2 linked regions of the Homo sapiens genome follow. The protein of the gene in region 2 purifies or fractionates together with the protein of the main gene of each other region. This does not show direct contact. Each region holds a gene or a part of one and is shown on either strand. Other genes may lie near its edges.

Region 1 (7,049 bases), on a different chromosome or scaffold from region 2:
AGTTCTCAGGTGATACTGATGTTGCTGGTCTGGGGATTGTACTTTAAGATAATTAAGTCAGGGACTGTTGCCTGACATAGGACAATAAGCTTCTCTCAGGAATTTGAAATTTGGAACAAAGAGCTCGGAGTCTTAGTGCTAGTAGACCAGTGCTCTGGAGAGGTCTGAAAACTACCACTGCTTAGGTTCCTAGTTTGTCCAGTTCCTGTTTGTCTTGAGCCTTGGTTGTCTAATCCTTTGAATAAATCCCATTACATTCTTTGTTTTGCATAAACTGGCCATAGAAAGTTCTTGTTGTCTGCCCCTAAAAGAACTTTAACTAAAGTGTGAGTATGTCAGTTAAAGTGTTCCACCAAAAAAACAGAAACGATTCTAAGTAGTATTTAAAACAGAGATAATGTGGTCCAGAGAATTGGCCATACTGTGATAGAAGATCTGTGAAGCCAAACACCCAACGCAGAGATTAGCAACAGCAGGAAGCTATCTCTACCGCTAGGCAAGAGGGACAAAGGGAGAAGGTGGTGTTACAAGGCCAGGGTGACCTGGAAGAAGCTGGAACCATGACAGACCAGTCCAACAAGGAAAATGCTGCTGCCACTGCCAGAAACATCACCCAATGCACCTCTGAGGAAGTGAAGAAATTCCCTAGCTTCTCTCTTCCTCCTGCCTACAATCCCCCAGCAGTGCCTCTCCATGCTGGGAAGCTTGGGAAAAGCTCCCTATGTTACTGAGGACAGCAGGGGATCCTGAGGAAGAACATATAGATCTGAGAACAAGTCAAGGACTGGCACTGTTCAACCCTGAATTTCTCATTTTAGTCTTCAAAGTACATTTTGCCTACTTACCAATTAGAGTGAGATAATATGTGCATGCTATATTCTTTCTAATAGTCTCTGTTAAGAATAAGAATTTTTAATTTAAATGGGTTTTTATTACCTTGTTCCATAATTAGGCCTGACATTTCTGAGATAATCTTTTGGGAAAAATTGCAAATGATATCAAGAACTAACATTTGTATAGTGCTTTTCAGTTTGAAAAATATTTTTACATGCTTCATTTAATTTAATCCTCAAAAACCTCATGAAATATATATTATTATTAACCCTATTTTATAAATAAGGAAACTGAGGCTCAGAGAGAATAAATAACACAAATATGCAAAGTAACATGGATCACAAATAATGGAATGGCACAATCCCAAACCTGGGCTTAGCATACAACCTTGATTGTTGCAAAACACCAAGCTATTGCATGAAAGTACACGCAAGGCTACACACTTTCATTTCTTTCTCTCTGTTGATAACTCATTTCCTCCTTTATCTAAAATCCAGTATCTAGAGTAAAACCTTATAACCAGCACTGAGAGAGGTGATTTTAAAAGATCATCAAAATGCTTCGTGGTGCCTTCTCCTCATCCCCTACCTGTATAGACTGTCAAATCTGTTCTTAGTGGTCTCACAGGTTCCTAATTAATAGGCCACGATTATGGGATGAGGCAGGGCTTTTCATAAGGTCTTCAGAACAGCAGCAGTTATGTAAAATGAAAAGATAGAAAGTAAAGAAACCCATTTTGACTGAGAATATCAATTAGCTAGACAGAGTGGGTGTTTTTGATGATTTATGAGACTACTTGGCCACCTAGAAAAAATTAAATGCAAACATACACAATGATTGTGTATGAAAGTGAGTGAGAGAGAGTGTGTGTGTGAGTTTCCTTCTGTCTCCAAAGAAGTGGTTAAGCCTCCTCTGCTGCTAGTTCTACAGACTGTATTTCTCATGTTAAAGAGCCATCTTTGTTTCCCTTGGTTACCAATGAAACTGTGCAGGGATCAGTTCAAATCCATCACCACTTGCAGATAATTTTTCCAAACACAATGCCCTCTTTCTACATCTATTATCTATATTTATAGCTATTAGATAGGAAGAGCAGTTCACATGTGCATTTCTCCACATTTATGTGCTTACAGTCTATTGTGTATGCTGTCCTTTATATGGAGATGACTATGTCACATGGCACATCCCTATAATATTGTTAAAGAGAATGGAATTTTTGTTTTCAGACAGACTGCATCTTCTCCTTCATTACTGAAGAGCCAAGAGAACTTGTTGTAAGGTGATTTCTCCATTAAAATTACTCCTCAGAGTGTGCCTCAGTAACATACTTTTATCTACAAGGATAAGCCCTGTCTTAACAGAAAGGCTCCACATTCAATTTATTGACTCAATAAATTTCAGGCTCACTGATTATGTTTCAGTCTAAAAGCTTTACACAGTTATAAAATTAGAAGAGCCTTTAGAATCATCCCAGGTCAAGTTTCTCTCTGAATATTTTTCCACCATGAACTGCGTTACATTAAGTCTACCCATTAGTTAGAATATCAGTGATTATATCCTTGATCTGATGGCCAGGGGAAAATTTATATTGTCAGAGTTCATTTTAGATAATATTTGAAATGGAAGAAGTAGCTGAGGACAGAAGAGCAACATTCAAAGCTATCTTCTTTCGGGGGAGAAAAGTGGGTCTTGTCTATAAAGAACAGGCTTGTTAAAAGAACATCAGAATTCATCGCTAAACATCTCTCTGAGCAAAACAAAGCATTTCCTCTCCCCTGAGATCCTCAACTAATTTCATAAATATTTTTTCACTTGAACCCAACTTAGTGTTGCAGAATGAAAGGAGAAAATAAATGATAAGAGTTCCACCAACACTTCAGTAGGGAGTTGTCTGAAATCTTAATTGTGAACCTTTTTTTCACAAGATGCACAGTCTTCTAGAGATTTTGCTAGTGGAACGGGTGTGTGAGCTGATCATTATATGGAATTGAGACACATCAAATGCCATTAAAATTTACATTTACAACTCGAGTAACTAAATGCATTGATTCTTTTCATATTAAAAGACACTTGGTATTCACTGAATAATGAAAAATGCCACGGAAAAAATTATGTATTAACAATACAACCTGCCTAAAGGGTCAGAATTCTGCTACACACCTTTTGCTTACCTTTAAATAAATATTTAGGTGTGTTAAGAGCAGGGCAATTCTTGAACGGCACGATGTTGTTTGGTTTAATGTCTTTATAAAAATATTTGAAAAGGTATGGAAAATGAGGTGAGAGTGTTGTGGATTTAAAAACATGTGTATACATAGATACACAATTATTAAAACTTTAGACAAGGACGTTTTCTTCCTGGGAGTGGAGAGCCACCAGCGCGGGAAGTCTGCTGCAGGGATGAACAAAAGCATGGCTGCACGATAGTATTATCTTTGCAGCAGCAGCAGGCGCCCTGACGGAGGGTTGCGGCGACTGTCTAGTCTATCACACCGCACTTCTGGTAGTGACAACCTCCGTTATTCTGTCAGCTCAGCCGACTAAGTGGTTCCCCGCGTTCTGCCTGGTCACCTTGTCTCCGTTAAACGGGAAGCAGAAAAGAGAAAGGTGAATTGAGGGGGTACAAGGAGATTCCTCCGCCTTGGGACCGGCGTCGCCCCATCCTCTGGAAGTGTTGAGCGGGGAGAATTCGAGGACCGTATTTAACCCAGAAAACAGTAAGCCCTCTGAATTAGCTGCTACGCCTGGGGAAGGCAGAAAAGTCTTAATCGTCCCTTCCCAGCAGGGACCAAGAAAGACCAGTTAGAGCGAGCCTGGCCGGACCACGCGAGCCCCGGACCTCTCCGATCCTTCAGAGCCCGCGCCGGGCAAAGTAGAGGTCAAGTCAACACACACGACCGCAGGGCAGCCCTCCCACTCTCCCGTGCGGTCCGCAGCTCGGCTTCGGAACGACCACCGCTAACACTGCAAGGCTGTAAGGCTGGGAGGGGGCGGGTCCTGAAGGGGGCGGGAATAAGAGGCGGGGCAGAAGGGCGGAGGAGTGTGTCGGGAGATGTAGTTCCGCGAGTCCCGACAGCAAAGCTGTCCCGGCTCCGCTAATAGATTGGGACCACTACTCCCAGGAGTCTGCGCGCCCGACCGGAGCGTCCATGCGCAGTGGGAGCCACTTTGTATCCTATCAGGCGAGGAGAGGGTGATGTCACCTGCGAGTTAGTAACCTACGAGCGGCTGTGAAGGAAACTGTTTAACCGGATCCCATTGTACCCAGAGTGCAGAGCCGCCTTTCCAGCATGCAGGGGCTGCTCAGGTAAGGGGGACGCTCCTCCTTGCCCGCCGCACTCATTCATTAAGTGGCACTGCTCAGTGGTGCGGGGGTGGGCGTGCTTCCGTGGGCTGGGCGCTGGGTTCGCGGCGCGCCCTCCTGCTGCCTCCCCGGAGCTCCCGGGCCAGTAGGTAAATATTAAACCCGTCCTTCAGGTTGGGTCTGGGTGGGAACGGGACCGAGACAGCTCTCGGCTGCCTAGCTGGGGGTGGGAAAATGGCTGCAGCGCAACGCAAACCGAGGCAGCAGGGAGGAAGACGCCCCCAAGGACTGGGGTCCCTCCCTTTCTTTCTAAGGCGCCCGGCTGGCCGAGGAGCTGGCGGGGTAACACTCGCCGCCTTGCTGAAGGCTCCCCGGGGCTGGGGCCGCGGGTACTGCAGCGGCGTCCGCGAGCTCCCGGCCCGGCGGCTCCGAGAGGGAGAACCCCGAGGCAGGCTTGGTGGACACGGCGGTGGCGACAGGGAAGGAGGGACTCGTGTACCCGTTCGCGTCCGAGCAGAGCCCCCAGTGCCCCTGGCACCCTCACTTCCAGCCCCATTCGAAAGGGACGGAGCGCCTGTAATTCAGACTAAGTTGGACCTAAATGTTTCAAAACAGAGAGAAGGGAAATCGGGCGTTGCGGAGGGAGAGCAGGGTGTTGGCGGCCGGGGAGGCTGCGCCGCCTGCGGACCCGGTTGTGAGGCACCGCAGAGGGCTTTTGCCGCCCGTCCCTCTCGGGAGGGCGCATCTCAGTCTCCACGGTCCCTTGGTGTAGAGCACCTGGGCTGGGGCGAAGCGCCTGCCCTGAAGCCCTGGGCCAGGAGGTGGTAGCGCGGGGGTGGAGGTGTCGGATAATCTAATGATTAGGCTCGCTGTGGGGCAGGAGGGCTGGATAATCGGGTTTACCCAGCTGGTTCTGAAAGCCAACTGCTTGTGATCGGCTTGCCCTCTGAGTGGAGACGTGCAGGAGGCCCAGAGCTCTCAGTCCTCTGGATGTTCTTTGCCTTTCCTAGTACCTTCATTTGTTCGTTTACTCATTCATCAAACCCTGCTAAGGTCTCAAGTTGTTCACGGCCTGGCTTTGCGGAGCTACCTCTCGCCCCATAACATATTTAGTGATGCCTGAACTCCATTCCCCTCTCCTTCATCTCCACTTTCTGGAGAGCATCAAGAGCAAATGCCACCGTGACCGTTTTGCTGGTAGTTTCTTGAGATTCGAGCAGGACCCAGTGAATCGAAGCGGAGTTGCCTGCAAGATGAATCCCGTTGCCATGGCGACTCCTGCCTTCGGAATCTTAGCCGCTGCCACTGCTGTTTCGATTCGATGTGGCTCTGCGGGCAGCTGGGAGGGAGTGGCTAGTGGGTGTGGTCAAACGCTCGCCCTGGCCCAGCTGCTCTCTCCTCCTCGCCCCTTTCACAGCCCCGGGACTCTCCCCTTTCTCTCCTAAATAGCTTGGACACAGTTCTAAACCCCTTTCCCTTCCCCGTGCCACACCTCATCACGCCACCTCTCTCCCTGAAACTAATTGTTTGGCGCCTTTTTCCTGAGGCAAACTCTGAAAATTATAATTTGAAAAATCTCTTCCCCCTTTCGGGCTAGCCGCATCATTTCCCCAATAAGGTAGTTTATGGTGTTGGAGGCAGCTTTGTCATGAAAGGCGCCCTCCCCTGTTGTGCATAAAGAGAGCTCTCTGGTCACCAGCAAAGGCCCTCAATTTGCTCTAGGTGCAGCTGATTGGAAGTGATTAGGGACAATTAATAACGGCTGGAAGACACTGCAGTCCCTTGTGGTTCTCATAAAATCTAAAGCCAGGCTAGAGGGCGCAGGTCCTTGAGGGTGAAGCATGCAGGGCCATAACCAGGAGCCTTGGGTCCTACTCTGGCTCTGTCAGTCACTGGCTACTCCACGTTGGGATTAACCCTTTACCTCTGGGAACCTCAGTCTTCTCTTTGGTAATGTGAGGAAAGGGTAGAGAGGGTTTCCTAACGTTAATTCTAGGCGCAATGGCCTATGATTCCAAGATAGACTTGGTCATTGTCCTTTTTCGTCCCCGACCCCAAAGTAATCTGAAGTTAAGGGTTTAAACTTGGCTTCTGATACTGTGCCGTCAGGTTATATGGACAAGGCAGCTATGTGACTATTTATAATACTGTTTATACTACCACTACTATTATTCCAGTATCTGGACCCTTCTAATTATACTTTAGTATTATAACTAATTGTTTAGGTTTTGCCTTTTTATAGATTCCTAATGAATGCAGTTATTTGTAATTGCATTAAGTGTAATTGACATATAAATATTTTGTTTCCCCTCTGCTTGCATTTTATACCAATGTGCATTATCACAGATGTTGCAATTATGGGGGAAAGTGTGTATATGAGAGTGTCTGTGCATGTGTATCCATAGTCAGGTAAATGCTTGGGATTGCTGTGTGCTTGGTGGTTGACACTTACGATCTTATTTTAAGTAGGTAGCTACATCCCCATGAGGAAACAGGATCAGAAGTTGTCACTTTTTTCCTGGAACTTACCATTAAATGAAAATTTCCTTCATTCTTCTGCTTGTCTACCCTACTAGATTATAAGCTCCTTGAGGGCAGTGTCTTTGTTTTGTCCTTTTCTGTCCCCCCAGCATTTAGAGCAGTTTGTTCATTTGTAGGTCTTTAATAAATATATGTTAAACGAATATTAAGTAGCAGAACTATGATTGGAGATCCAAGGTCTATTATTTCCACTGATAGTTCTGTCATCCGTGGTAATATTCCCCTTAGCTTTTCTATCAAGCAGTTTCATTTCATCATAAACCAAAACTTGTCTGGCATAAAAGGCCTTCTATGTATTTGAAATAGACATATTTCCTAATTATTTGCTTTTAGAATACATTCACTCACATCGACTGTTTCTTTGTAGTTA
Region 2 (7,025 bases):
TTGTTTTAAAGAAATACCTGAGACTGGGTAATTTATAAAGAGAGGAGGTTTAATTGGCTCACGGTTCTGCGGGCTGCACAGGAAACATGGCATCGGCATCTGCTTGGCTTCTGGGGAGGCCTCAGGGGGCTGTGGCTCATGGTGGAAGGCGGAGGAGAGCAGGTATCTCACATGGCAGAGCAGGAGCAAGAGGGAGAGAGTCAGGGGGAGGTGCCACACCCTTTTAAACGACCAGATCTCATGAGGACTCACTATCATGAAGACAGCACCAAGCCATGAAGTCACCATCATGAAGACAACATCCGCCCCTGTGATCCAGACACCTCCCACGAGGCCTCACCTCCAGCACTGGGGATTACAGTTCGACATGAGATTTGGGAGGGGACCACCACCCACACTCTGTCACCCGGCCTTGGCATTTAAGCTTCTGATGCATTTCAGGTGTGCGATGGGAGTCCTGACCATACCCACCACTCAGGACAGACAGTTCCAGCACATGGGCAACAACTCGTGTGTGGCTGGTGTGCGTCCTTATGCTGAGGAGGGGTGCGTGAGCTGGCACACTTGTGACGGTCGATTCTCAGGATCTCTTTCTTTTTTCTGTCCTTTCTCATGTCCCACCCTAGAGTCAGATGGAGTTCAGTATCTCCGCCCTATCCATCCAGGAGCCGAGCAACGGCACCGCCGCCAGCGAGCCCAGACCACTGTCCAAAGCTTCCCAGGGCTCCCAGGCCCTCAAGTCCTCCCAAGGCAGCAGGTCCTCCAGCCTGGACGCCCTGGGCCCCACCAGGAAGGAGGAGGAAGCGTCATTCTGGAAGATCAATGCTGAGCGGTCCCGAGGGGAGGGGCCTGAGGCCGAGTTCCAGTCGCTGACCCCTAGCCAGATCAAGTCCATGGAGAAGGGGGAAAAGGTCTTGCCTCCCTGCTACCGGCAGGAACCTGCCCCGAAGGACAGGGAGGCCAAGGTGGAAAGGCCCAGCACCCTCCGTCAGGAGCAGCGTCCTCTTCCCAACGTGAGCACCGAACGTGAGAGACCCCAGCCTGTCCAGGCCTTCAGCAGTGCACTGCACGAGGCTGCCCCCTCCCAGCTCGAGGGGAAGCTGCCATCTCCTGATGTCAGGCAGGACGATGGGGAAGACACCCTGTTCTCGGAACCCAAGTTTGCACAGGTGAGTGGCCTTTACCAGCGCGTCCTCAGATGGGATGGTGCCTTATTCCACGGGAACCGAGAGGGTCCCCCACAAAGCAGGCAGGCCACAGGTGCCCATGCTCTTTTTCTTCTCCTTCCCCTGCCTCTTCCTCAGAGGATGCCTAGGCTCAGGGTGCTGAGCCACCAACAAATATGCAACAAGACAAGTTTTGCGAGTCCATCTGGGTGCCCTAATTTGTTTACCAGTCAGGGTTCCGTGGCCCACTGCGCTTTCCCCAGTGCGCGGGCTGCTATCAGAAGAGGCCCCTGGAAGGCGCTGCGCCCAGGGCTGTCACAGCTCAAAGCTGTGTTGGGCCTTCTTTTTGGGAGCTGTCCATAGAGGCAATGGTCTGTTCTTTAGGACTGGTCTGGATTTGGGCCAGGGGAGCTGCCTGTTGGCAAAGCAGGCAGGCACACTTGAGAGGCCTCACTGGGTCTTGCCCCTCTGTGGGCCTCGCTGGGCTCCTGGCTGCCTTGCTGAGGAGTGAGCCCAGGATGCAGTTGCCTCCATGGTAGCCTCACCCATCCTCCTCTGGCCCTTGAGACTCCTTGGTTCTTGTGGGTCACTCTTTTTTTTTTTAATTTTTATTTTTTAAATTTTTTATTTCCATAGGTTTTGGGTGGTATTTGGTGACATAAGTTCTTTAGTGGTGATGTGTGAGATTTTGGTGCACCCATCACCCGAGCAGTGGACACTGAACCCAATTTGTAGTTTTTTATCCCTCACCCACCTCCCACTCTTTCCCCGAGTCCCCAAAGTCCATTGTGTCATTCTTATGCCTTTGCATCCTCATAGCTTAGCTCCCACTTATGAGTGAGAACATATGATGTTTGATTTTCCATTCCTGAGTTACTTCACTTAGAATAATAGTCTCCAATTACATCCAGGTCGCTGCAGATGCCATTAATTCATTCCTTTTTTGGCTGAGTAGTATTCCATCGTATATATATACCACAGTTTCTTTATCCACTCATTGATTGGTGGGCATTTGGGCTGGTTCCATATACTGAATTTTAAAAGTTTTTATTATGGTAAAATATACAAACATTTACCATTTTAACCATTTTACAGTATAAATTTGGTGGCATTTCAGTACATTCTCAATGCTGTGTAACCATCACTACCATCCATCTCCAGAACTCCTTTCATCCTGCAGAACTAAAGCTCTGGACCCGTTCAACACTAACTTCTCATTCATCCCTCCCCGCAAGCTCCTGGCAACCACCATTCCACTTTCTGTGTCTGTGAATTTGACTCCTCTAGGTACCTCATATAAGTAGCACCATATAGTATTTACCCTTTTGTGACTGACTTACTTTACTTAATGTGACGTCTTCAAGGCTCATTCATGTTGTAGCAAGTGTAGAATTGCCTTCTAAGGCTAATATTCCATCGTGTGGTTAGACCACATTTTGTGTATCCACTCATCCATCGACAGACACTTGGGTTGCTTCCACCTTCTGGCTATTGTTGTCTGTTAGGAATAGTGCTGCTGTGAACGTGTATGTACAAATAAGTCTTCCAGCCCCTGCTTTCCCTTCTCCTGGGTGCATACCCAGATGTAGAATTGCTGGATCACATGGTGGTTCTATTTCTACTTTTTTGAAGAACCTGCATACTGTTCGCCACAGCAGCTGCGTCATTTTACATTCCCATCAATGTGGGTTCGCGTTTCTCCACTCCCTTGCAACACTTGTTATTTTCTGTGTCTTTGCTGGTGCCATGCGAAGGGGTATGAGGTGGTGTCTCACCGTGGTTTAGACTTGCCTGTCCATGATCGTGAATGATGTTGAGCCTCATTTCATGTGCTTATTGGCCATCTGTGTATCTTCTTTGGAGAAATGTCCAATGGTCCCTTGCCCATTTTTAAATTTTTGGTTATTTTGTTGTTGAGTTGAGATCATCACTGATAACATTGAATGTCCCCCAGAGCAGGTTTCCAGTACTTCCACACCTCCCTCGGCAGATGGCTGCACGTGCTGTCCTCCCGAGGAGGGAGGATCCAGCGGTGCTAGTACCTTCTGCCCACCTCGGCTCCACATCAGTGCTCTAGCCTGTCCTCTTCGTGTTTCTGCACCTTCTTAAGCTAGTGCTTTCAGCCCTCTTGTTTCCTGCCTTCTCCGGTACCTGCCCATCTCTCCGTTCTGTTTTCTGTCTCACATCCTCCTGCCCATCAGCTCCTCCTTACAGACAGGCTCAGTTCCCTGCCTCCCTAACCAGCACTCTTTCTCTGAGACTCGGCACTGAGGGCTTCCTCTGAAAGAAGTATTTCCATAAAATAGGTGATAGTCCCCACTCTAAAGAGAAGCAGGAACGTGTTTCTGTGTGGGCAGTGGAGAGTAGGAGACAGCACATGAAATTCCTTTGAGAGAACAGATTTCTGAGTAAAGCACAGTGAAATGCCACTGCATTTAAGAAACTGGAAGGAAACCAGAACAAGGAAAACTGGATTGCACTCCTTCCATTCTGCATGTTTTGCCTCACTCTGCACCAGTCTCACATGTAGCCAAACTGGGCCTGAGACAGGTGTCAAGGGCAAGCCCATTAGCCCATTGCCTGCTCTTGCCGCCATGTATGCATTTTCTGCTGGCCGGCTGCTTGGAGGGTGGAGAGTCAAGGTTTCTTTGCTCAAGAAGACCTTGGCGCACCAGGTAAATGCCTGCCGGTGTTAGGCTGGAGGAAAGGGACATCAGAAACAGGCTGCTGAGTGGAAGCCAGTCAGAAGTTTTATGAAAACAGCAGCAGCTTGAGACAGCCCATGCTCACAAGAGGGGACCTGTCAGTTAAGCCCTTTCCCCTGAAAGAAGAATGACATTAAACCAGGCCTTGTGGTGCACGCCTGGTGCATGCCTGTAGTCCCAGCTACGTGGGAGGCCGAGGCAAGAGGATCGCTTGAGCCCCGGAGGCTGAGCTTAGAGTTTGGGAAAATCACTTCATAACCTTTCACAAGATCTGAAAGAAATAAGCTTCACATTCTTTCCACACTATGTTTACTTTCTCAACTTTACAAGTTCTTTTTTGTTGTGTTTGTGTGTGATGTTTGTTTTATATTTGAAGGAATATCTTTATCATTTGTTCTCTTATTTAGGATGAATAAATTTAAACATGGCTGTCATTCAGAAACAGAAAAGATTTATAGAAAAATACAGAGACATTGTTCTTTTCTCTGTAAGGTCTGTAAGCTGCTCACAGACATGCCTGGGGTTGAAGAGGGGTTAGTGTTGGATGCTGGCAGAGTATAGATTGCATTGAACTGTATTTAATCTTCTGATTTCAAGCACTGAGATAAATTGAGGTCAGGGAACCTCTGAGACAGAAGTAGGCTCTTTTATCTGGGTCGTTTTAAATGAGATGCTGTTTTTAGATTATACGTAACTGAAAAAAAGAGGCTCGTCTTACTTCCATGTTTTTGTCCCTTCTACAGGTCAGCTCAAGTAATGTCGTCTTGAAGACGGGATTTGATTTTCTGGACAATTGGTAAAATGTATTAGAAAAATACAATGAAGAACCCTAAAATGTTTTCCAAAGTGGTGTGGTGGAGGAGGATAAAAAGGGCCACCTTTTCCTATGTATTTTACTGGTTTCTTGACACTCTTTTCTTAATCATTTGGAAACTGGTCAATATTGCCAGATTTTTTTCTTTTTTGGTAGAACCAGATATATATGCTATTTTCAGTGATTTGATAACAGAAGTTTTCCATTTGGAATTTTTAAGGTCTGTTAATAATTCAGGAGATCTTGTAAATAAAACTTCTGTTCCCAGCTCCACCCAACTTTCCCCCTCCTCAAAGGATGTGTTTCAACCATGTCACAAAAATCATATAAGTGATTTCCATCTCCTTCTCCATTATTCCCCCTCCCCCCTCCGCTTTTTACCGTATGGGTTCCTTTTGGTGGGTGATTGAGGGTGATGTTATCAGCCATGACATCAGCATGCTGGCTGTGACCCCGGAAAGACTGGCCCCCAGCGACGTTCTCAGCCAGCGCTCGCAGCTGTCCGGGGCTTCTCTGGCAGAAGCCATGTCTCTCACATCATGTGCCAGCCTCCACCCTCACGCCATTTCCAGGGAACAGACTGCGGGTATGTAGCAGTGTAGTCTTTAACCTGCTCTGATACATATTCAGAGTATGGATTGTTGTTTAAAAAGAGTTGCATGTTTAAAGAGTTTTGTACTAGCTTTTCATTATTTTGTATCTAGATTATCAACAATGGGGCTACCACTTTCCTTGGTTTTATATCCATTTCCTCTTGGAAGTTCTTGTTGCTTATGTGACCTGTTGGTTGTTCCCCGGACTGGGCACCTACAGGAGTCAGGGCAGACGGCAGATGTGGCTGGAGGTCAGGGCTCTTCTGCTTAGTTGTGTTAGAGTCTTCCAGCATGGGACTGATGGGAGCAGTGGGCATTCTTTATCCCAAGGGCTAGCCAGGTTGCGTCATGACGGACCTTCCCCAGCCCTGACCACCACCAGAAGTGGAAGAGTGGAGTTTGCGGTCAACTCAGCAGTGCCCATGGAGACCTGCGTGGTGTCAGAGCAGCAGTATCTCTTGGAGCTGGTGCAGACACCAAGGCTGCCCAGTGGTACAACGTGGTCCACCTCCCCTAGGGAAGCTGCTGCACTCAGAGGCTGTCCTGCCCAGTGGCCCCTGAGCCGTGTGAGCCTGCAGGAGGCGTCTGAGCAGAGCCTCAAGCCCGGTATGGCGCCATCTCCATGTTGCCATCACTGCGTTCTCACCTGAAGCCTTAATCTTTGCGACACCTGCCAGTGAGCGCTCGGTTTCAATACCAAAGTGTGTCTTCTTCTTTTTTTTTTTTTTTTAAATGCCTGTTTCATAGGACCTTCTGAAATGATTTCCAGAATATTTTATCTGGCTCCAAAATAAAGCACATAGCAACTCACCTCAACCCCTCATCATCTCCAGGAAAGTTTCTGCCAAAGCTGTGGCATAGCCAACTTTTGATTTGGTTCTTGCCAATTGTTTTATGTCCCTAAACCTCATTTGGATCCTTGGGGTATAGTTTTATCTTTCTGCTTCAGTGATTTACTGTAACTTTTCAAATATTGGTTCTTTCTGTACCATTTAAGTATAGTTGATATATGTGAGGCAAAAAAAGGTTTCAGCATGGTGGTGAGGGAAAAAGGAGCTTAGAAATCCCAGTTGGCACAGCCTGGGCAAGCGCCAGCTCCCCTCAGGGCTAACGGCACTGTTCACACAGGGATCCTCAGAATCAGCGGCCACCTGCCTCCACCTTCTGCCTGGAGGGCATGGGGCTGTTGTAGAACCTATGGTAGCAAATGTATATGTATGAGTTTGTATTCTGTAGTGTTGGTGTAGCACAGAAGAAAGACCTGTGTCCTAGAGAGTAGGCCAAGGTGATCTGCCTCTTCTATTGGGAGAAATTCTAATTTCTTTCCCACTTTCTCAACAAGCCCAATATTCCCTCCAAGTTCTTCTTGGTGCTGAGGGCTGTAGGAATTATTGAAAGCTTCTGCCTCACTTAGTATCGTCTGGGGCCCAGCACCCAGCAATAACTCTAATAATGTTTCTTAATGGTATAGCCTCCTGAGATTAAATGTAAAATCAAAAATTAGGAAATCTTGGAGGGAGTCCTCAAGTTGTATTGCTTTGCTGTGCTTTTGGAAGAAGGGACGACCTGGAGGACACAGGCTCCTGTGTGGGTCTTCATCCTGCCTGACCGGCAGATCTTCCTCTACACCTTGGGCAAAGTCTATGCGAAGATGGTTTCTTAGCTCTCCATTTGCCATGATTTTCCTCCCATTCATCATGAGGGAGTTTCTCAAACCAGGAGTTTATATTTATTTTTTAGAAAATAC

What was found. The genes of interacting proteins can lie anywhere in the genome.
Region 1: the proteins of C1orf198 (region 2) and DAAM1 purify together in Homo sapiens (co-immunoprecipitation; 2 studies listed by BioGRID and IntAct, with this or other methods). This does not show direct contact.

The regions. Positions count from the first base shown.
Region 1 is NC_000014.9:59,184,628-59,191,676, forward strand, and holds the start of DAAM1 (disheveled-associated activator of morphogenesis 1), read left to right. Parts: upstream 1-4,039; 5' UTR 4,040-4,141; exon of another isoform or gene 4,142-4,287; intron 4,288-7,049. UniProt on the Homo sapiens protein: Binds to disheveled (Dvl) and Rho, and mediates Wnt-induced Dvl-Rho complex formation. May play a role as a scaffolding protein to recruit Rho-GDP and Rho-GEF, thereby enhancing Rho-GTP formation. Can direct nucleation and elongation of new actin filaments.
Region 2 is NC_000001.11:230,837,498-230,844,522, reverse strand, and holds part of C1orf198 (uncharacterized protein C1orf198), read left to right. Parts: intron 1-626; coding exon 627-1,169; intron 1,170-4,614; coding exon 4,615-4,671; 3' UTR 4,672-7,025.